2 linked regions of the Homo sapiens genome follow. The protein of the gene in region 2 interacts with the protein of the main gene of each other region in a biochemical or structural test. Each region holds a gene or a part of one and is shown on either strand. Other genes may lie near its edges. The genes, in order: TJP2 and CLDN1.

Evidence for each region.
Region 1: the proteins of CLDN1 (region 2) and TJP2 form a complex in vitro, tested with the Homo sapiens proteins (one study listed by BioGRID).

What each region holds. Positions count from the first base shown.
Region 1 is NC_000009.12:69,231,868-69,243,994, reverse strand, and holds part of TJP2 (tight junction protein 2), read right to left. Parts: intron 9,557-12,127; coding exon 9,448-9,556; intron 7,968-9,447; coding exon 7,757-7,967; intron 7,047-7,756; coding exon 6,859-7,046; intron 6,118-6,858; coding exon 6,022-6,117; intron 5,286-6,021; coding exon 5,206-5,285; intron 4,059-5,205; coding exon 3,848-4,058; intron 1-3,847. UniProt on the Homo sapiens protein: Plays a role in tight junctions and adherens junctions. Acts as a positive regulator of RANKL-induced osteoclast differentiation, potentially via mediating downstream transcriptional activity.
Region 2 is NC_000003.12:190,310,784-190,322,910, forward strand, and holds the start of CLDN1 (claudin-1), read right to left. Parts: upstream 11,664-12,127; 5' UTR 11,424-11,663; coding exon 11,201-11,423; intron 4,277-11,200; exon of another isoform or gene 4,110-4,276; intron 2,254-4,109; coding exon 2,089-2,253; intron 1-2,088.

The sequences.
Region 1 (12,127 bases), on a different chromosome or scaffold from region 2:
CCAGGCTGGTCTCAAACTCCTGAGCTCAAGTGACCTGCCCACCTTGGCCTCCCAATGTGCTGGGATTTACAGGCGTGAGCCACCATGCCCAGCTGAACTATATACTTTCAATGGGTGGATTATATGGTATCTAAGTCAAAACTCAATAAAGCTTTTCACGTGGCTCGGTTAACAGTGGCACGCTAGACCCCCTCTAAATGGGCATGCAACAGCAAAGGTATCCAGCTAGGGGGCCCAGCATCTTCCTTCTCTTTTCTGTGGTCAACTAGCTAGTCTATATAATCCTTTGAGAAATCAGGAATTAAAATTCTATAATTAGCATAAAAGGGTAGCCCCACTTGGGTCTCTAAATCCATAAGTCAACTTAAATGATCTTCGAACCATGCACTGAGTACTTTGAAGATTCCAAGAAAACATGTAATTCAAAGTTTGTTTTTTAAAAATAAAAATTTGTGATATGCAAATGTATTTTATAGAAAATTTTTAAAAATTGGTAGTAGGGGAGGCAAACCTAACACTTAAACTTATTATGACAAGTCAACTTGCCTTTGGGCAAATCTCAGAATAAAGCTTCTCTTGTTTAACTGAGAAGTACTGTAAGACTTGTAAGGAGAACTATTTTCATATTGTCATAATTAAATACTCGTGAGGAAGAGGAGCTTTCTTATTACTTTGCAAAAAGGAAAACAAAAGGATATTGAGCCTAAAGAGACTAATGCAACATAAAGCTTGACTTCAAATTACTGTGTTCATCAAAGCACTCTATTATTCTCAACTACTAACTCACAAAAATGCCATACACTTAAAATCATTTTAAAAGCCTACAAAATAGGCCAGGCACGGTGGCTCATGCCTGTAATCCCAGCATTTTAGGAGGCCAACACGGGCAGATTGCTTGAGCCCAGGGGTTTGAGACCAGCTTGGGCAACATGGGTAAACCCTGTTGCCAGAAAAAATACAAAAATTACCCAGGCATGGTGGTGTGTGCCTGTAGTCCCAGCTACTGGGGAGGCTGAGGAGGGAAGGTGCCTTGAGCCCAGGAAGCAGAGGTTGCAGTGAACCGAGATCGTGCCACTGCACTCTAGCTTGGGCGACAGAGGGAGACTATGTCTCAAAAACAAACAAAAACTATAAAATACTAATTCTGCCTGAAGATTCTACTGCTCAAATGTAAAGACTAGTGTTTCTGGACATGGCACACAGCCTCAAGTCAAAACCTGGTCAAGCTAAGAGGGACGAGGGTGAGATGGGGAATAAAAGCAATTATTAGTGCAGTCATCCACACAGCTGTAGGGAGTCAAACTTTGAAGTCTGGAAGAGTACTGTAAAAGACCACTTGCTAGAAAATTGGAGCTTGCTGGTCAAAGTTGCTGCACACCCTGCACCATCTATCCTGAAGACTGTACAATTCTACATAAGAGATTGGCAATTTCTGGTGAGATAAGATCACTTCAATGTTTTAGATGAAACTCAATGCTTACAGTGTGTGCTTCCATTCCAATCTCTGACTTGAGTTATTCTAAAACTTTCAACTTCCTGATGAGTTTAGGCAAGAAATGGCTTGGTGTGCCAGGGGCAGTTCTAATGTAAGTTACAAACATTTATGCCTTGCCCATGTGCTAGTCCTGATGCTGGCCTCAGGCACACAACGCTGGGAAATGTTCAGGCTCTGCCTTCAAGGATCTTGAAATCCATCTATGGAGCTAACAGAGGTGTTGCTAACCCCTTCTACACACATGGACCCCTCTAGATTCTTACTCACACTCAGCCAGCTACCGTGGCCTGTGCTCCCAAGAGCAAATGATGCGGACTCAGGTTAGATCAAGGGAGAGCCCCACAGTCACTGGCTGCCTTCTTCTGCCCTGCTCTCCTCGTCCAGCCGCCTTCAGCCTAGTTCTTCCTCTACAATGCACTGTAATTCCCTTCCCGATTTCCTACATCCTCACGTGAATCCCAAATTTAACTCTCTGAGGGAAGACGCTCGCTATTTAGTGTACTCAGACAAAAGCAGGGGGGAAAATAAAGTGGGGATAGTTTTAACTTCATTTATAATCACTTTGGCTTCAGTTTTTTAATCTGTCAAAAGGAAGGGCTGCATTACGTGACCCCTTTTGGGATTAGAATATGTCTGTGCTGTAACATATGTACAATATTGGACAGTTAGGGACGCTATAGTTTAGTCTGGGCTCAGTCATACATCAGAATTGTGATTATGCAAAAGTGCTGGCCTTTCTTATGGCCTAATAAGACAGCACACATGGAAGGCTGTACCACTCTTTACTGTTGCTATAATAGTAATAATCATAATAATTATAATACTAGTAGTAAAAAGGACAGAAAGGATATTCATAAATATACCAAGAGTATGAGTACGTAAGACTACATTCACAGAAATCTAGTTTATGATGGACCACTTCCTCCTCTGCATTTGGTTAAACTCTCTCCATTTGGCCACAGTGGCAAGTAGTGCACCTCTCTTTAACAAGAAAAACCAAGTTACACTAAAACAAGCATCTAATGTGAACACAATCATTCACCCCTTCCTCTCCAGTATCAGAGATACACTAAAATGACATGGGTGGATGATGATGGGCAATGAACTCAATGAGCTATCCTCATCCTAAGGATATCATATCCTTGCAGTCTCCTCGTGTTGCCCCAACAAAATAATGCCCTGCATGACCACAAAATTTATGTAACCCTTTAAAACTCTTAATAATCTCATATGCACAGAATTAATCATTTATATAGACAGTGCATATATTGTTACTAAAATATGTCATGTTCTTAGACCATTTTACTTTCATGAGTAATAGCAATGGCTCTTCATTTCATGGACTTAAAAATATATTCTATTAGGTAAATCTTTAAATATGTACAAAAGTACAGATAGCAGTTTAATGAACTCCGATGTACATATCAACCAGTTCAACAACTAACAACTACCAAGTCTTGGCCAGTCTTGTCCTGTCTATAATCCCATCTACTCCCCTCACTGCAGACTATTTAGGCAAATTCTCAACATTATATTAGGTCAACCATAAATATTTTATTTAGTATGCATTCCTCAAAGAACTTTGTTTTTAAAAAAATCACAATATTATTATCACACCTAACAAAGAGAAATAATAAATCTTTAAATCATCCAATATTCAGAGTGTCCAAGTTTCTAGATTTTTTTTTTTTTCTTTGAAGAGACAGGGTCTCACTCAGTCACCAGGCAGGAGTGCAGCAGTGCCATCACAGCTCACTGCAGCTTTGAATTCCTGGCTCAAGCGATCCTCCAACCTCAGCCATAGGCATGCACCACCATGCTAGGCCTTTTAGTAGAGACAGGATCTCACCATGTTGCTCAGGCTGGTCTCCAACCCCTGGGCTCAAGTGATCCTCCTGCCTTGGCCTCCCAAAGTGGGAGGATTACAAGTGTTATCCACCATGCTGGACAGGAATATTTTTAAATAATGAAACCAAGTTCCTTTCGCTTTGTAAGTTAATGCATGTATTGATGGTGAGTAGAGAACAATGACACAATCTCTAGAGAGACATAGGTGTTTGGCCTGGCTCAATCACTAGCCTTATAGTCTCACAGGAAAATATGAACTTCATCAAAATAGCTAATTATTACCACATCATGGATCTTTATGGTCATTTTCAAATAGACAAAATTACAAAGTTCAATATATAAATGCCATTGGCCTAATATCCCATTTTATAGGATTAACTATTTTTCAAGGAGTCATGAACACAATTTCAAATTCTCCATTCAGATTAATTAATTATTTCTTCTACTCTTCAATTCTTTATTTCTCATTTTTTAGCAAAGGGACTACATTTACATTTCACTTACCTGTAAAAAGGTGTGCACACGTTTTTTTAAGCTTGTTGGCTTGATCAAATAACTTTCGAGAACTTTTGTTGGACGTTGGATTTAACCTTTGTCTCATGGTTTTGACACCTTGTCTGGAGTCTGGGTTGAAAAAAATCACAATTGGGAACCACTGGGTGTAATTCAACAGGTCCACAGCTTTCGGAGTCACATCCAGTAGTGCATGCTTATCCTGTTTACAAAAGGGGAAAAGTTAGAGAAATGGATATATAAAGTAATATAGCATCAAATACTTTGTTTTAATAAGTAAAGGCTGTATGAGATATATCTTGTTTGTTTGTTTGTTTACTTATTTGGGATAGATTCTTGCTCTGTTGCCCAGGCTGGAGTGCAGTGGCACAAACTTGGCTCACTGCGACCTCCGCCTCCCGGGTTCAAGCAATTATCCTGTCTCAGCCTCCTGAGTAGCTGGGATTACAGGTGCCCGCCACCACCATGGCCAGCTAATTTTTGTATTTTTAGTAGAGACAGGGTTTCACCATGTTGGCCAGGCTGGTCCCAAACTCCTGACTTCAGGTGATCCGCCCGCCTCTGCCTCCCAAAGTGCTGGGATTACAGGCATGAGCCACCTATCTTGTAAATTTAAATCAAGAAGCAGAACACATTTCCTTCTACCTAATGCCCACTTCAATATTACCAATGTGTTAGAACTTCTGATAAAATGAATTAACACATTATTTGGTATAATGCTGGGAACTCTGGAAAAAAAAACAGTATGTTACTGCCAGAGAACAGTAACAGTGACTGGTTTCCACACAGTGAAATGGTTTGCATTTACATTATATATATATTTTTTTGAGATGGAGTTTCACTCTTGTCGCCCAGGCTGGAGTGCAATGGTGCAATCTCCGCTCACTGCCAACAGTGACTGGTTTCCACACAGTGAAACGGTTTGCATTTACATTATATATATATTTTTTTGAGATGGAGTTTCACTCGTCGCCCAGGCTGGAGTGCAATGGTGCAATCTCCGCTCACTGCAAACTCCGCCTCCTGAGTTCAAGCGATTCTCCTGCCTCAGCCTCCTGAGTGGCTGGGACTACAGGTACCTGCCACTGTGCCCGGCTAATTTTTTATATTTTTAGTAGAGACAGGGTTTCACCATGTTGGCCAGGCTGGTCTCGAACTCCTGACCTCAGGTGATCCACCCGCCTCAGCCTCTCAAAGTGTTGGGATTACAGGTGTAAGCCACTGTGCCCGGCCAATTTTTTATTATTAACATTTAATGATTAAAAGTACAGATACTATCCTAAAAGTGACTGCAGCAAACCATAATCTAATTCTTTCTGAAAACACGGTCTGTGGATGAATTTTCTCACCTGTTCAATAATTTGCCTCACGGTATTTAACCGGACCACTCCAGTGGATTTCTCAGATCCTGCATCTTTTGGTTCCGTTTCTGCAAAAGCAAAAACAGGAAGCTAAATAATTGTTTAGAAAACAGTGACAACCAAATACTCCCACCTAGCATCAAGCAATGATGGCACACCTGACATTAAGTGTCTCCTAACAAGATTCAGTGGGAAGGACCCACATAACCTGCTTAGTGGAAATCTAATCATGAAGAAACGGTTAGGCCAGTCCAACAGGAAGCATTCTAGGAGACAACTAGCTTGGATTCTTCAAAATATCAGTGTAACAAAGTTATTTAGAAAAAAGAGGGGACTGGAAAGACATAAAAATCACAAAAAGACATAAAAATCAAATGTCATGAATGGTCCTTGGTTGTATTCTGAATTTAAAAAAAAGCTATGAAGCACATAACTAGGACAATTAAGAAAACGTGGAAAATGGACTATATACAAAATCACACCACATCAATGTTACCTTTCTTGGCTGTGATAATGGTATTGCAGTTATGTGGGAGAAAGTCCTTGTTCTTAGGAGATTCACACAAGTATTCAGGGATAAAGTGTTATAAATGATTCTGCAGAAATTTTTCAAAGAGTATGTGTATGTGTGTGTGTATGTGTGTCTATGGTGCAGGCAGTGGGTGAGAGAAAATGCGTGACAAAATGTCAGCAACTGGTGATTCCAGGTGAAGGGTACGTGGGTGTTCATGATTCTTCCAACTCCTCTGTTAGAAATTTTTCAAAATAAAAATTTGGGGGAAAAAAAAACACTGACAGACTTACTAGCAGTTTGAAACCAGTCAGGTAACTCATTAGCCAATTTTTCCATTGCTATATCAGCTATGGGGCCGAATAAGACCACAGGTCTCTTGAAACCAGCTGAAATGACAAGAAAGGCCATTAAAGCATACACACTTGCCTAGCTGTTATGATAAGCAGTAAAAGTATTGTATGGGCTTTTGATAACATAACTAAACGAAAGAAACTGTGGTTTCTCCCCAATTCAGCTTGGCTCTGTTCTGAAGAATATGCCTTCACTATCCTCACCATTTAAAACAATTTTTTTCTTTTCATTCAACCACATGCTAACCTAGATTTTTTTTTAAGAGACAAGATCTCACTATGTTGCCCAGACTAAACTCAAACTCCTAGGCTCAAGCCTCCTGAGTAGCTGGGACTACACTGCCTAGCTCCTCACCATTTTTAAACACAAACTTTCCCATTGATAATATATGGAAACTTTTTTTATTTTTTGCAGAGATGAGGTCTTACTATATTGCCCAGGCTAGTCTTGAACTTCTGAGCTCAAGTGATCCTCCCACCTTGGCCTCCCAAAGTGCTACGATTATAGGCATAAGGTACAGTGCCCAGCCAATATACCGAAACTCTTGAACAGTGGTATTAAAACATTTTTTAAGTTGCAGAAATAAGCCTCAATTTAGGAACTGAAACAGCTTTTTATAAATCATGCTCCTTGTTAGAATTTGATTTCAACTCTATAAACTGCCTTTGGCATAACTGACATACATAAGTTAGAACTTGACCATACAGTCTGAAAATAAAGGTGAACAGGCTCAGAGCCCAGTCAGTTCATTTCCAGGCCCCATGTGACTTCCTCACCTTCTCGCAGCAAAACCCTCTCATAAGCTGGGAACTTGGTGCTGACAGACACAACAGCTGTGAGGTCTTCCCGACTTTTCCTCAGGTTCTTCTTCACCCCAGACCTCTGGCCACGCATTCTCCAGAAATCTGCCCGGTCCCCAGCGTTGTCTCTCTGGGCATTTTGAACACTGGCCATTTGTTCAGCTCTGAGAAGAAACCACGGGAAGTAAATCTCTAAAGCCAGAAAACGCAGCTAACATGCATTTCATTAATCAAATCCAGTCAATTTTACTTCTGAGCTCAGAGAAGATTCCGCTTGACAATGAAGAAGTTTCAGAGGGTGGGAAATGTGGGGACCTTCACTTCCAAATGGGAGCAGAAAAAGGCTGGGTCTCTGTGAAATCTCCCAGAAGTGGCTCAGCAATAAACATGTGAAATTTGGCCCATTCTGATATGCAGGTACACAGTACACACACCTGGAACTCCTGCTCAAATACAGGCCTCTTTTCTAGGTTCCTGCACTGTCAGCCAAACACCAAGTGTTCACTGGGGTGCATAAACCTCTCCAAGGATGGAGACTGGGCACCGGACAAGGGTACCTTGTCTCTAAGAGGTGTGCTGGTGTGCTACGGCCATTCAGTATATCTCTTGTATACGGTACAAGGCAGTGGATGCTCCTTAGGAAGTTGTTCAAACAGCCACATTCAGCAACCAACCACATGATGCTAAATTTACTCACAATAAACTGGCTGGTGGCTATTTACAGTTCAGGCCACTCTCCATAAACAAGAAATAGATGGTGACAAGTAATGAACTCATCATGTGGGGTTTCCTTTTACGGGGGAAGGGGGGCGGTCTCTAGTTTTCTGCAGGGGGAAGGATTAAAAGGGGTATGTGAGAATGCGATCTCTGTTACCTGCTCTTGTTGGGGATTAAGCCTTTCTCCAACTCGTTCCCAATCCTCACAGCCAGCCAGTTGCCCAGCTTGCCGTCATACAGTGTGTCTACCACTCGGAAGACCTCCCCTCTGGTGAAGGCCAGGCTCTGTGGAGTTTCCTTCTCACATTCAAAGTGGCTTCTTATAAAAAACGAATCCCCTCTGCCACAAGCCAGGATGTCTCTATACACTGAAAGACAAAAGCATCGTTTGTTGCATTCAGCTTAGTACAAGTTACAGTACTAGACACTCAACACAGCTTCTCCTATCTCTGATCTCCCCTTTACCTTCCTTCCATTCAGTGCACAAGTCCTATGGGAGTCACAGCTCCAACAGGAACAAGGACAAATAACCAGCTTCACGGCTTGCTGCAATGGTTAATTTTATTTCAACTTGACTGGGCCATGAAATAACCAGGTATTTGGTCAGACTTTATTCTATGCCTTTCTCTGAGGGTGTTTTTGAATGACAGTCACGTATAAATGGGTAGACTGAGCAAAGAAGATCGCCCTCCCCAATGCGAGTGGGCCTCATCCAATCAGTTGAGGGCCTGAAGAGAATGACAATCAGACCCCTTCTCAATTAAGAGGAAACTAGGCTGGGCGTGGTGGCTCATGCCTATAATCCCAGCACTTTGGGAGGCCAAGGTGGGTGGATCACAAGGTCAGGAGATCGAGACCATCCTGGCTAACACAGTGAAACCCCGTCTCTACTAAAAATACAAAAAATTAGCCGGGCGTGGTGGTGGGCGCCTGTAGTCCCAGCTACTCGGGAGGCTGAGGCAGGAGAATGGGGTGAACCTGGGAGGCAGAGCTTGCAGTGAGCCAAGATTGCTCCACTGCACTCCAGCCTCAGCGACAAAGCCAGACTCCGTCTCAAAAAAATAATAATAAATAAATAAATAAATAAATAAATAAATAAAAAATTAGGAGGAAACTACTCTTCCTGCCTGATGGCCTTCAAAAGGCGACATCAGCTCTTTTCCCTGACTTGGTACTGGAACTACACCATTGGCTCTCCTGGTTCTCAGGCCTTCAGACTGAGACTAGAACTAAATCACTGGCTCTCCTGAGTCTCTATCTTGCCCATTTTCACTGCAGATCTTGGCACTTGCCAGTCTCCATAATTATGTGAGCCAATTCTTTATAATAAATCTCTTTCTTTCCTATTGATTCCAATATCTCCTATCATTCTGTTTCTCTGGAGAACATTAACACAGTTGCCAATCAAGCTCTGAAGCAGACAAGGAGGACACTCTCAACACCCACTTAACAGATGGGAACAAGGCCTGGAAAGGTGAAACAACTTGTCAGACTGGACAGGGGTAACAGGCGCACCAGCCAGCAGCCATGGCCTTTGCACATGTCGTATGTAAACTCACTAATAACTCCAGGCAGAACATAAGGCTGCATCACTGTTCAGGAAGGCAGTTTTATTCCAAATTGACACAACTAGTAAAATTATTTCAGTGCATGCATAGAAAACATTTTTATGGAAAGTTAAACGGCACTCACATTTTCTTCACACACCTAGGGCCCAAGGACTAGGTGTTGAGATCCATCTCAATTTTTTAATACCCAGATTTGCCTATTCTGGTACCAAGACACCTCTCTCATCCTTCCCACTCCCCACCCCCACCCCAACTAAACTAAATGACCAAATTTGCTCACCATCGGCTCGGCTCTGAGCTAAAATGGTCACCATTTCACCTTTAGGGATTTCTAACAGGTAGAGAACGGCATCCTCCCGCACTAATCCTCTGAAATCCTGTGTGTTCACCTATTAGGAAGGAAAAACAGAAAAAGAAAAAAAAAAAAAAGAAAGAAAGAAAGAAAGAAAGAAAGAAAAAACAGAGAAGTTTATAGTAAGATGCCACTGACCCTTTTGTTTGTTTTCATCAGGGCCTGTCCAGAGCAAAGCCAAGATGCAAATGAGTCCTTAATGTCACTATTCAAGTCCTCGCGCCCAGCACCTTGCTATGGGCCTGCACACTATACCTTCCTGCCTCCCCATACTGCCAACCGCACCTTAGAGGTTAAGCCATTGAAGCAAGGATCTGTCACCAGATCACAATAGAATTTCTTGTGGTTGTTTCTATCCATCTCCCTTCTGTGAGTCTCTCACAGAGGTGGCCAAGAAGGTAATACACAAGTATGAAGCATGGGGAGTGTTGGGGTCTGTGACAACTGAGCATGCTGGCCCAGCATTTACACTAATTTTAAACTGGTTCAAATAAAAGTGTGCAAATAAAGACTCTGACCAATTCTACCCTTCTCCTATAGCTTCTATCACCTAAAAGTGTTTAACATGTGTTTATAAAATTGAAAGGTATGTATCAAATTAAAGAGCATCAGCCTTACAGTTACAAAGCAAGTAAAATTGAAATGTAGCACAAAGAACAAGACATTTTGAAATCATAGTGCTATGTGGTTTTTTTTTTTGAGATGTAGTCTCCCTCTGTCGCCCAGGCTGGAGTGCAATGGCGCGATCTTGGCTCACTGCAACCTCCGCCTCCTGGGTTCAAGCAATTCTTTTGCCTCAGCCTCCCTGAGTAGCTGCGACTACAGGCATGTGCCACCACACCCAGCTAATTTTTTTTGTATTTTCAGTAGAGACAAGGTTTCACCATGTTGGCCAGGCTGGTCTCGAACTCTTGACCTCAGGTGATCCGCCCACCTAGGCCTCCCAAAGTGCTGGGATTACATGCGTGAGCCACCACGCCTGGCCCATAGTTCTGTATCTTTCAGCCTATTTTAAAACAGAATTATAAATAAGTAAAATGCAAAAACCATATTAAAGTACCTGATATGTTAATAATATTTTGTAGAAATAAAGATATAAAATTCCTATGAAATATTTTCTTCAGTCATTGACAATTACAGAATCCTTTTAATCACAAGAGTAATGCTTTATTAAAGAAGAAACTTATCCTTAGTTGGGTGGGCCTTAATTAAGGCCAAAATTTATGATTAAGTGAAAGTCGGCATTAGACTAAAACTAATTTGGTGCTTTTAAAATAAAGTGATGTGCTAAAGCAATTGAGTTAATTTTTCCTTTGAAACAGTATTTAGTATTTAAGGTACTGTCATTTGTACCTCTCTGTCCCCCAATTAGGAATCATCCCATTTTGGTATCCTTTCTTGTGCCATTTGTTTATCTACATCTGTATCTACATATAGCCATATGTATATTTTCACATGTACTATACATGCTTGTATTTGTTTACTTAAATAAGACAGGGCCACAAGGCTGTGGGAGGACCTTGGGAGTCCTTCAGTCCATCTCTCTGGCCACAAGAGATTAACCTTAGATCAGTCTCGATCACAGTCTTCGATAGCCAAAAACTATAATGGTCAAAATTAAAGCACACATGGTAGTTATATTTTAAAAATCTACATGGTTAATAACCAAACTTAGAAGTCTTTTTTCTCTTTTCCATCCCATAAAAGTTTCTGAAAGAGAAATGACAACTCTATCAGATAAATAACAAGCAAAGAGGTAGTTCAGCCAAGCAGGAATGAGCAAAAGCACATATATCTCCATTATTGATAAGGAATATACATATCTGGCTCACGTCTTCATTCCACACATTAGGCTGTCACCTTTGCAAAACAAAGAGCCACACTTAAAAACCCCACAACAGAATAAAGTGATTAGCATGTGTATAAGGCTCACTTTATATATTCAATTTGGCCATGAAAAGGAGCATTGAAACAAATTAAAGTGAAAAAAGGCTAGGGCAGCACTTTTCTACTTGAAGGTTACATTGAACAGTCCTTTCCAATAAATATCCTCTTTGATTAGCTATTTAGTAGTCTACAGGGTCTAGCCGTGTCTGCTGTGAGCCTGAAGAGGATCCTGTATCAGCCACAGCTTAGTATTGTGCAGCAGCTTCTCCGCCCTCGTAGGCAAACTCAATCTTTTTCACCCCTTTCTAGAACGGAAAGCTTCTTTTGTAGTCAACAGAAAATTTATTCGCACCCAAGAAATGAGGACCACCTATTGCCTGACCTCCATATGGGATGACAGCAAAAGAAGCCAGTTCCCAGAGTTCCTTCCGTGTTGCCAGGGTGATAACAAGAAACAAAACACCTTAAGTATAAATGCTGATACCATGACTTTTTATCCACCAAAGCGACTCTCCCCATCTAACAACAACTTACAGAGAGGTCTGACTGCCAAGCCTCTAGGTGAATTCACTACTTTTCTTCACGGAAATTTAGAAAATCTCCCAGCCCCTGAACATACGAAAATATTTTATCATTGAACCTTAATGAGCAAAAGCTCCACATTTCTAGCTATCATCCTATGGCCTCACAATAGTTAGAAAAAATGCCTTTTTCCTTCATC
Region 2 (12,127 bases):
CAAGGGAATACCTGATATAGGTATAGGTTGGCCTGAGATTTGTTGAGGGTGCCACATCAGATCAATTTATGCAACCCAATCTCAATTTCCCATGGCATTTTATATTCAATGATAGCAGAGAAATCATTTAGTCAAAATCATTCACTTAATCATTTATAAGATGTATAAAATACTTCATTTTTTTATCAAAAAAGTTAAATAACTTTTTTGTAGTAATTCTAAGTATTCATCAATATAGATAGATTAGATGTTTCTATGCTACTGTCTCTCCCCAGCCAAAAACATGGTCCAATGTAATTGCCTCTAGACATGACAGAAAACACTATTGCTTTTGGCTTCTCAAATAGACCATGCGAATGGTCTTGAACTTGTGATGCTTACTCCTAAGAGAAGTCCCTGAAACTGGAATAGGAGTGATGCAGTCACATGTGGGAGTTACAAGAAGGCAAGCGAAGGAAGAATGCAATGCATTTCATCCTCATCGTCTTCCAAGCACTTCATACACTTCATGCCACGATGGCCACAAAGATTACTATTCGCAGCCTTTGATATAAGAGTAAATTATTGGGAATAAGACACTATCCATGCCTTTTCAGAGAGGAGTCAATTTGTATTTGGGTAAACTGAGAGACTGGTCATTTTAAACTAACCACATCTTTAGCAAAGCCACAGATACTCTTCCTCAATTACTGGTTAAACTGACATATTATACTGAAGCAAAAGCCCCTACAAGTCTTCTGTCAAAAAGAAAATAAGAAAATAAAGTCTATTCTAGTTTTTTTCTATTAGTAGATTTGTATCATTAATTATATCTGTTATTTTTTTAAAATAATATACTATAATATACTACATATATAATATATGCATCTAATACCTAATATAGAGAACATATAGTAGTCTATTATTATAGCTGTATAATTTATATGGAGATTATCAACATATATAACACAGTGTATAGATATAAAGATATATATATACACACAGAGAGATTGCATATGTATGTACATATACACACGTAAGTATACATACACTATAATTTTTTAAATAGGCATTATTATAAAGCTTTGAAATAATGCTGTCCATGTTTTCTGACTTTGATTTTCTCAAATGACACATAATGTAACTTATCAATCAACACTTGAATTAAAAAACAGATATTTCTTTTCTTTTCTTTTTTCTTTTTTTTTTAGACAGTCTTCTGTTGCTTAGGCTGGAGTGCAGTGGTGCGATCTCGGCTCCCGAGTTGAGGTGATTCTCATGCCTCAGCCTCTGGAGTATATGGGATTACAGGCGTGCACCACCACACCCAGCTAATTTTTGTGTTTTCAGTAGAGATGGGGTTTCACCATGTTGGCCAGGCTGGTCTTGAACTCACGACCTCAGGTGATCCGCCCTCCTCAGCCTCCAAAAGTGCTGGGATTACAGGCGTGAACCACCACACCTGGCCTAAAAAACACGTATTTATTTTAAATGGAAAATATAATATTATTTTATCAAAAAAATTTAAAGGTATTTCTGTATTTTTTTTTTCCTAACTGCTTTAAACTGACCATTCCAACAGGCCACCTCTACTCCAGTTGGCCTTTCTTTTCATTGATCTACAGGCACATCCTGTTTATTCTCGAATTAGATCTGCCCAGCTGGAATGCTATCCTTATTTTTCTCCAATAATCCCAATCCTTCCATCCCTCACAGACCTGAAGGGTTCACATATTCTTGTGTTTTCTCTCACTACTCCCCATCTTTTCCACATAGTATCTGTGGAGACACCATAGGAATTATCTGAATTACATGAACTTCCTCCTTAGCGTTTGCTAAATAGTGAACAACTTTCTTCACTGGAAGAGACTGGTTCTAACAAACCAGTTGCCACTTGAAACTTCAACCAATAGACCTGTCAGATGTGAGCAGAGCTCTCACATTTTCATTTAGTTTGTGTTTGAGAACATGAAAGTCAACTGGACTTCAGGTCTATGTTTGCAGTTTGCCTTAGAGACTGAAATCAAGTATAATGAATCCAACGTAATAGATTTCAAATCATACCAGGAACAGGTTAGTAAGGTGAAAGGGGGGCACAGCCTCTATTACCTGCAAGAAGAAATATCGCACCCCCAATGACAGCCATCCTCATCTTCTGCACCTCATCGTCTTCCAAGCACTTCATACACTTCATGCCAACGGTGGCCACAAAGATTGCTATCACTCCCAGGAGGATGCCAACCACCATCAAGGCACGGGTTGCTTGCAATGTGCCTGGCAGAAAACATTTTAAAACATGTAAAAATATGCTTGGACCAACAAGAGAAAAATGGAAGAAGACCAAGTATATGTCACTGTTGTATGGAAGAGAGAAAACTGGACTAGGAATCTAGAGACCCCAGTCATACTGATGTTTCCGCTGGTAACCCAATATACAGTATCTTCTCCAGAAAAACAAATGCCAGGCTGGATGATGAAAAAGAGATCCCTCCACTCCAATATTTTATGTTTCCAACATTAAATTCAAAATCAACTGGAAAATTAATTAATGATCTAATTGAATAGGGTTAGCTGAACTAATACATATTTATTTTTTACTAAGGGATTTTCATCCTTGCTAAGATAATTTTAATTTTAAGTAACAATCATATATACTATCCTGGATGTTAACTATTTGTAATCAAAATGGTTTACAGTATATCTTTGATATTAGTCACCAGCTTTACACCCCAATCAATAAGCTTCAGAAAAACTGGATGAATTGGAAGATAAAAAATAAATGTTTTATAGATTATCATGGCTGGATAAGCAGTATTTGTATCTCCAGTGATGTGAATAGGAGGAGTGGGGAAGAATATAGAAGTCATTTTCTTAAAACTAAACAAAATAACCTTTGAGATGTTACCTTGGGACATAGTAGTAGATTCATATTCAAAGACATCACTAGTTTTTTAAAACTATTTAAGCTGCCATGTTGTAAAATAGCACACACAATAATTCAATGTAGTGTTTCTCAGGATTCCATTTTTTCTAATTTCCCATCATTATTTTTGGTGTACTAACTCATGATCAAATAAACAGGGTCAAGTTTGAGACATTATCACTATGTTTCTTAAAGAGTAAAAACTTGATGCCATCATTGTGGCATAAAGGCACAGATTTTTAAATATGAACTGAAACTATGCTGGTTAGAAGATTTTGTTTAAATTCTAGATTTATGTCCTCCTTTAATTAAAGATCACTATATCATTGACAGTGATAATATGTGACAAGTGTTTTTTGCATATATAAGTATTTTTTAGCTTTAACAAACTGTGCTATCTTGAGCAAGAAACTTAGTATTGTTTGGAATAATATTTCAATTATATAAGTAAAATGTAAATTATATCTTTATCCAGTGGATTGGAACAATTGACTCCTTGATGGTCTTTAAAAGTGGCTGAGATGTTGGAAAGGTTTTGTATCTCAATATCTAATCAGGCCTAGGCTTAGTGTTAATATTGTCAAGATTGAGAACTTAGGTCACCAATCATAATTGAAGCTAAATATTTCTAAAACTTCATTAAATCTTGATTTACTGATTTTCTGTCTTTGCTATAACCAGGCAATCTATGATAAAATTATAGTAATCTCTTTATTTTTCTTTTTTTGAGATAGAGTCTTGCTCTGTTGCCCAGGCTGGAGTGCAGTGGTGCGATATGGGCTCACTGCAACCTCTGCCTCTGGGGCTCAAGCGATTCTCATCCCACAGCCTCCTGAGTAGCTGGGACTGCAGGCACGAACCACCATGCCTGGCTAAATTTTTTTTTTTTTTTGGTATTTAGTAGAGATGGGTTTCACCATGTTGCCCAGGATGGTCTCAAATTCCTGAGTTCAGGTGGTCTGCCCACCTCGGCCTCCCAAAGTTCTGGGATTACAGACGTGAGCCACTACGCCTGGCCATAATCTCTTTCTAAAAAGTATCAAAGGTATTGTTTACAGTATTTGAGAGATATTTTTGAAGCCAAGGTTAAGTTTTACTTGATTTCATTTAAAAATAAAAAAGAGACTTCCTGATTCCCCTCACACACTGACCTCCTCATAAGCATGTATGGGCACACATGCACACTGACCCACACACTTATCTCAAGATTCCAGGTGGCAGAGGAACTGCTGGATCAAAACACATGTTCCACGGACCACAGGTTTACCAGGAAGGAACTGAAGCTGCTTGTAAGGTTATTACACAACTTTTTCCTTGGAATCACAAGCCATACTGTGGTATGAAGAGGAAAGTACCAAGGGCTCCATGGTTAAGGTATGTCCTCTTTCTGATGGATGGTTTTTGCAAAGGCTATCATTATTGGGAAATAACAAATAAAATAACTAAACCCATACATAACACAGATTTCAGATGTGGTCCTAAGATTACACTTGGCAGGAAAATATTTCAGGCAGAGATATGCCTGAAGAGGAGATGCTGAAAGTAACAAAGATGATCCATGTCTGGAGGATAGGGAAACCACATATCTCAGTTTGCCTGGAACAGTCCTAGCTTTAAAGTTTAAAGTCCTACATCCTTAGAAGGCTCTCAATCCTGAACAAATTGGGAGAGCTGGTCATCCTAACGCAGGATGATAGGATGTGCAAAGTAAAACGAAGTTTAGCAAGGTGGGCAGAAGGCATATGTCATGCAGAACTTCGCAAATTAGGGTAAGAAGATGGATTCTATTCTAAGTATAATCAGAAGTCATATGATTATCTTGAGAAAGGGGCGACATGATTTTTACTGTCAGCATAGAGATCACACAATCAATAAATATTTCTATGACAGCACTTCAAGCATCTATAGCATCTTACATTTCACAGCCTCCTCCATTTTATTTTTTCATAAATACTCTTTTTCAACCTTTTATTAATCATTTTAGATGTTTTCTCTGATCTTGCTCCAAGTTTTTCTCTTTGTTCAAGTTGTGGGGCCCCAAACTGGACCAGTTTATAGAATAATCACACTGATCTTTTCTTCAAGTAAAAACAGAAGGTCACTTGCCCAGCAGGTCTGAGCACTTAGATCGCAGAGTAGTCTTCAAGAGAAGTCTAACTGGGCATCAATCTCATGAGTCGGACTGTGTAAAACCCCTGATCTCCCAGGCAAGGAACACATGTGCATAAACTACTCCAGGGCCCTTACTGCACCCACCTGGAATGACCTAATATTCACATTTTTAATCTCTAAGTTTTTGCCCATTAAGTTCTCAAAGAAAACACATTTGATTCGTGTCAAATCTATCTTGCCACTTCATCTACAAAGTGTTCTTTCCAAGGGGCTGGGGACTGATATTCTGTTCTATGATTGCTAAGAAACCTATCAGGTTTCATTTCTCTATAGAATAATATATTATTTGCATAATACACAAAAAGTAATGGAGAAAATGGAAAACACAATATTTAAAAATTGCATAAACCATAGAAATGAGATCCTGCTTTGTTTTTTAAAATGTCGTTTTGCAAAGTAATATTTTCACTTACATCCTGGCAACTATTGACTTATACAATTTATTTGTATGTTCCAATATTAGATTTGCATCAAACCCAAAATCTTGCTTTGCTTCATTGGAGATATTTGGATAAATTCTTAAGTATAGTTATATGTGAGGAAAATGCAAAAATAATATACACATGTAGTCACGCACAAAAAGCTGAGAATTAAAACAGCACGAAAACTCACAAGCAAGGCGTAGGTAATGATAGGTTACCAGTCAAAGTAAGCAACTATTGTGTTACAAGTTACAAGTGTTTTATGTGCAGATCAAATCTAAATTGCACAGTTTTAAGCCGGAAACAGATGAATACCTTCACATCATAGAAGTGTTTTAAATCAGATTTGTAAAGTATGTAATCATGAACTCCTGGATGATTTGAGTCAGATATTTATTCCTATTTCCATCTAAAGCACCAAGCACAGTACTTGAAAAGTCACATGGATTTATCAAATTTCAATAAATTTAAATTAGAACATGTCTTTATCCTTTAAAAATCTGTACCAATATGATAGGTAAAAATACTTATTCTCTTGTGTTTAGCTTAATTTTTGAAATAATACTGAGAAATACCTCCCTTGAGAGCCTGGTATGCTAAAATCTTGCTACTAAAAGCCAGACTTAGCTTAGGTCACTGATAACTAGAAACTCATGCAGATAATACAAATTGTACTTTTTGCTTATTTTGATCTATTTTTTAAAGTATGTATCTAATGAGCTTCAAAGCTTAAGTTTTGTTTCTTTTTGCCCTAATGGAATGATGAGTGGCAGAGCAGAGAAGTTAAAAAGGATGTTTGAAAGCTATAAAACAACAATTTGGATGAGATAGATGTTGTATAGCCTTGCAATATTAACTTTGAATTGGTCTGATTAGAACAAACCTAGGAACAAACATATTCCTTTTCTCACCTCTTAAATTTGCAGCTAAATCTACAATATTATGACCACTGACTAAAGTTGTCTATGGAGAACCTGGTTAGCAAACATTAAAAAAATTACACTATTTTTTCTCATCATTATTCAGCAGTAAACACAGAAGGCAGTCTTTTAATTATATTTAGCTAGACTGACAATCTTGAGATTAAAGACCCCCTAAGGAGTTCTCATCATTTTCCACCTGAAAGTAGAATTAAAAGTAAATACTTACAAAGATCTCTACTTATAAGACAAGAAGTGAGTTGGAAGTTACTGATCTACTACACTTAGGTTAATCAACAAATGTGTAGAAAGACAGACATATATGTAATTTTTCTAAAGCTTGAAAGTCTTGCTACACAAGTAGTAGAATCTACTATCAATACCAGACATTGTTTATGCTATTTTCTAGCCATATTACCTTAGGTTCTATATATCATAAACAAAATATAGTCATCTCTTGGTATATAAGGGTGATTGGTTCCAGGACCACCCACAGGTAACTAAATCTGCACATGCTCAAGTCCTACAGTTGATCCTGTGGAAGCCTTGTATACAGAAAGTCAACCCTCCCTACATGCAGGCTTTGGACTCTCAGATACTGTATTCTTGATCGGTATTGGTTGAAAGAAATCCACCTATAAGTGGACACTTGCTGTTCAAACCTGTGTTGTTCAAATGTTGACTGCAGATTCCAATTCTCCCTTTGCATCTGTAGTTGCTTAATAAGTATTAAGTGAATAAATGAACTGATGATTGGGTGACTAGAACAAAAATATTGTGCTTCCTTCTCCCCTGCAATTAAATGAGCTCAACACAGACAGTCACAGAAGTGTACTCCCCTGGCTTTTCTCCATATTAAATCTTTTACTTTTACGGAAGTTCAAAGTTTCATAAAAGTCCTAATCATTAGCATTTCCCTCTTATTGGTGCATGAGGTGATGGTCACCAGATGTGAACTCAGAACATAAGCAAAATCAGGAGTGAAAATGATCCTGGATGAGGCAGGATGTACCACTTTTCAGGATGTCCTCAGAAGTTTTGCTACCTTTCTTGTTTGTGTGTTTCTTCAAGAAATTTTCTCAGAATTAAGTTGATGCTTCTATATTACCTCCATTATATTTCCTTAATCACTCCAATTAAGGAAACCTAAGCTATGTGACTTGCCTCTTCCCCTTCAATCACTGAAGTAATAACAAAGAATTCTGGCACTGGAAGGAATCTTAGAACTCATCTTAGCTGCACCATCCTTAGCAGCAAGAATAGGGCCTAGCTTGCATCTGTTGAATGGATAAACGAATCATAGATTCATCTCCCCATTCCTCCCACTCTGCCCTATTTTATAAGTGGGGTAACTACTTGAAACCAGGGAGATCAAGTGGCTCACCATTATACACTTGGCTACTTAGTGCCAAACCACAGTAAGAACAGAGAATTTCTGATCTCAAGCCTGGATTTTTGCTTCAACTTCCATTATTCTAAGAGTCAGAACTAATTTATGAAGTATATCTGAACACCAATGGCCCTTCGAGTACCCTCGGTTCAGCAGGCACAACGCATCTGGAGAAGCATAAATAGGTGCCCTCCTCTCCACTTAGGCTTCAAAGACTGTCCACGTCAGTGATTTTGTCTCTCTGATTGAGCCTGACATCATGGTGAGAGTGCTGGGGAAGCTCACAGCCACCAATACTCATTAAGCACACCTACACACATGTGGATTCATGCAAAGCAAGTTAAACAGGCTAGAGGAGCTTATAAACAAATTACAGAATCTCAGGGTTCGGTGAGATTGAGAGAGAGTCTAGCCTAACCTCCCATTTGTCTGGTGCTTGGATCTTCCCTACAACATTCCTTCAAAATGCTTATTTATTCTCTGCTTGCACACCTCCCACCATGCAGCCTCCTACAGCAACTCAATCTTTGGACAGCTCTAGCTATTAAAGTCAAGTAAGAAGAAGCATTTAAGCAAGCACATAAAATTGGCGCGAGCTTCCTAAAAGTTTGAGAATTAGATGAAAACAAGGCGAGAGGTACAGGTGAATCAAGAAAAGTCTACTACAACTGTATCTGGCACTTTTTGTATATTCCAACTTTCAGCTACAAGAATCCCCAGGGTCAATAAAATCACATACTTTGGATGAAATGGAAATTGTATCAGCCATTATAAAACTACAATACACAATGTGACATTTGTTTCCCCAGGAAGTGCCTCAGTTACATTTTCATAAACCGCTTGGCAAGAACTACCTAAAAGAAGAAGCCTTGCTCTATCTCATTTTGTATTTACTGTATACACTATTAGCACACTGTATTCCTTCAGATACTTTATGAAGGTCATATGCTTTTTATGACCTACCCTACATAAAGCAGGGAAACAACAGATTTTAATACTTCCCGTGCTAAAGCCCTGCATCTGGCCGGGAAGACAAGTGTGCTCTACTGGGAAAGACGGCAAGGTACAATTTCGGGAAACCCACAGCTAAGCTTTTCACCTAAACACACTTAATGAAATGCAGCTTTTTTCTGAGTGATACTGCTTAAATATACACACATAACCCTTTTCATCTCTACATGTAACAAAACTGTACCAAAACCAGCCAATGAATCACCATCCCAGATCTCTACAGCTGGTGGGCGTAAACACCACTGCTCAGGCAGAGAAATGAAGTAAGGTTTCCTGGGTTCTATCCAAAAGCATCCCGTGAGTCACGGCAGGTGAGAGGAGAACACCTGTGAGTCAAGGGTCCCTCTTCTGAGAATGGGTTTTGAGAGAAAGGCCTAAGCCACACCTTGGATAAACTATGGCTTTAAGTAAAATAAAAGTGGATTCTGATCTGGAGTTTTAAAAAAATAGGAAGACATCTCTAAAGTGTGTGTGGGGGGGTAGGTATTTAGTCCTTTCACCCTAGTTTTAAAAACTGTAATAACTACATTAACCAAAAAATGAAAGTAAAACATTTTAACACATTATCATGTGTAAGGATGATCCATTTGAGTATTTACAACATAGATCAATCTGATTTCATTTGGTCATTTCAGGAAGTTAAAAGAAAACCTATTTAAAGATGTTGAAAAGGAACTATTTTGATCAGAGGAATAAAACTGACAGTGAGACCTCTCTGGAATTGTCCTTAGAAACCTCCACCTGCCAATTCCTTAACGTGGTACCTAAAATGCCTGACACCGTTTCCTTAAATATATTTATCTTTCCATGGAGAAATTCAATAATTATTACCAAATTTTTCATTTTATAAGTACAAATATAACCCCTGAGGGCAATGAGCAACACATAATTACTAAACTTATGGATTGGTTTTGGTGTAAAGAAGTCCTGATATGAGAACCTTCAAAAGCTGAAATAATAACACTCAAAACAACCATGCACATTGACTGAGCAAATGCCACAGGTATTCAAGGTGTTCAAACAGATTTGGAACAGGTTTAATAACTCTAAACTATATGGCTTTTGATATACACTATTAAAAGTTGTCCCTTGATAGGAGGTAGACAAAACAAGTTAAGTAAACTTGAACAATGCCAACACTTTTCACCCTTAGCATGCAATGGGGGCCAGTGGGCAGTCACGTTCATCTAGGCAAAGACTAAGGGATCTTTTCTTCAAGTGAGTTAAAGGGCATAACAGACACATGATATAAGACAATTAATGTGATTTCTCAAGGAAGATACTCCAGCCGTGAATCATTATTATCTAAGTAAATGGGAATTTAATGACTTTTCGGACAAGGAACTCGAAACCTTTAATTTAAAAAACAAAGTAAAACAATTATCCTATTATCCTTCTTCCCACCATCCTTAGAAATATGTCTCTCTATACAATCCTTTCCAGTTTTACAGGGGGTCACTGAACATCCATTACACAGAAATTTCTTTGTGGAAGATGGAAACCTAAGGAAGACCCACCTCTTCTTTCTCTCTCACTGCCTTCCACTCCCAGCTGACCTCTGATTTCATCAGCTATGACTATTTTGCTGCATTTCCCTTCAGTGCCTTTACTTTTTTCTTTGTATTATGTTGCGCAGGTTATTTAGAACCTTTCTTGTCAGCCTTTCCCCACCTGCCACCAACCTTCTCTTTCCAAGATAGCACTACACCGTCAGCCTCTACAGAAGACCTTGGGTCTGAAAATTAAAACTTCGGGGGAATCTCAAGCAGCTTCTCCAAAGAGTCTTGCAAGGGGCCTCCCTGCACTAACTGGATCTTATAAATTAAAAGAATCAACCTCAAGCATAAGCAGAAGACACTTAGATAGGACATTTCCAGTAGGAATGTAACTTTTACTATGAAAAAATCATATTAAAGGTTAAAAAGTTATATCTAATACTTGAGGATTATTTATTTAAGCGTGCACACTTGAGAAGTTACCAGGCTTCAAACTTTTTCAGTCATCCCATTTTCTTGTCTGAACTCTACCAATCCTCAATTTACCCCAAATCTCGGAATGCCTAGGAGAGGTCTAAGAGCTCAAGTTCAAGTTTGGCCTTCACTCCCTCAACTCGAACCACCAGCATAGGAATTTAGGATGAAGCCACACCTAGAGTGGCAGAAGTGTCACCCAGGGAGTTAGAGGCAAAACTAGAGCTTATGCCTGGGCGTCGCTTTCCTCAAACCAGGATTCTCTTCATTTCCTTATGACAGAGCACATGATCAGAAGACTTGATCAACTGAAGACTGATAACCATGGAATCACACAACAGAATGAGCCCATAAGGGAGCTGCAGGGGGACTGGGGCCTCTGGACGGCCGCTGTGAGGTGGGGGTGCACTCACTGCTCAGATTCAGCAAGGAGTCAAAGACTTTGCACTGGATCTGCCCGGTGCTCTGCGACACGCAGGACATCCACAGCCCCTCGTACATGGCCTGGGCGGTCACGATGTTGTCGCCGGCATAGGAGTAAATCCTCCACTGGGGCAGGGCAGTGCTGACGATGGCGCCGATCCATCCCAGGAAGGCGAGAATGAAGCCCAACAGCTGCAGCCCCGCGTTGGCCATGACTCGCTCGGGCGCCCGCGCTGGCTCAGGGGTGGCAGGTGCAGAAGGCGGAGAGTTTGCAGGTGGGCAACCCGGACTCCCGAAGGTGGCTGGGCCCCGCGGAGGAAGTTAAGGCGGGGAGCCCTGCTCGCTGCGCCGCCGCTGGAGAAGCTCTGGGTCGGGGTTGGGGTCCGCGCCCGGGGCGGCGCTGGAGTCTGGATACTAGAAGCTGCGGTTGCTCCCAGGCTCGGGAACTGAGACGCAGAACCGCTGGGCGCCGCGATTTAAAGCAGCTCCGCCCGCCTCAGCCCCGGCAGCCGGGGAGCGCCCCCTGGCGGTTTCAGGGCGGCTCACCGAGAGGGCGCCGGGAGCGCCCGGTTGGGGAACGCGCGGCTGGCGGCGTGGGGACCACCCGGCAGGACCAGGCACCAGAGCTGCGTCCCTGCTCGCTTTCTCTCGTGGATCTTCTCGCTCCTGTAAGGCGTTTCACGCTTTTCATTCATTCACTCCAATTATCCAAAAATTACTATGCACTGTACTTGTAAATCCTAACACAAAGATGAAAAAATGATCCTTCAAGAGCTGCAGTTTTAGGTTTAATACTTTTTTCCCAATATCTTATTAAAAGGCATTTCTACCCAACTCCGCGTCTCCTCCCCCATCACACCATTTCTCTCTCCTTTGCTTGGCTTCCTCCCCCTTCTTTCCTCTCTCTGCTCTCTTCT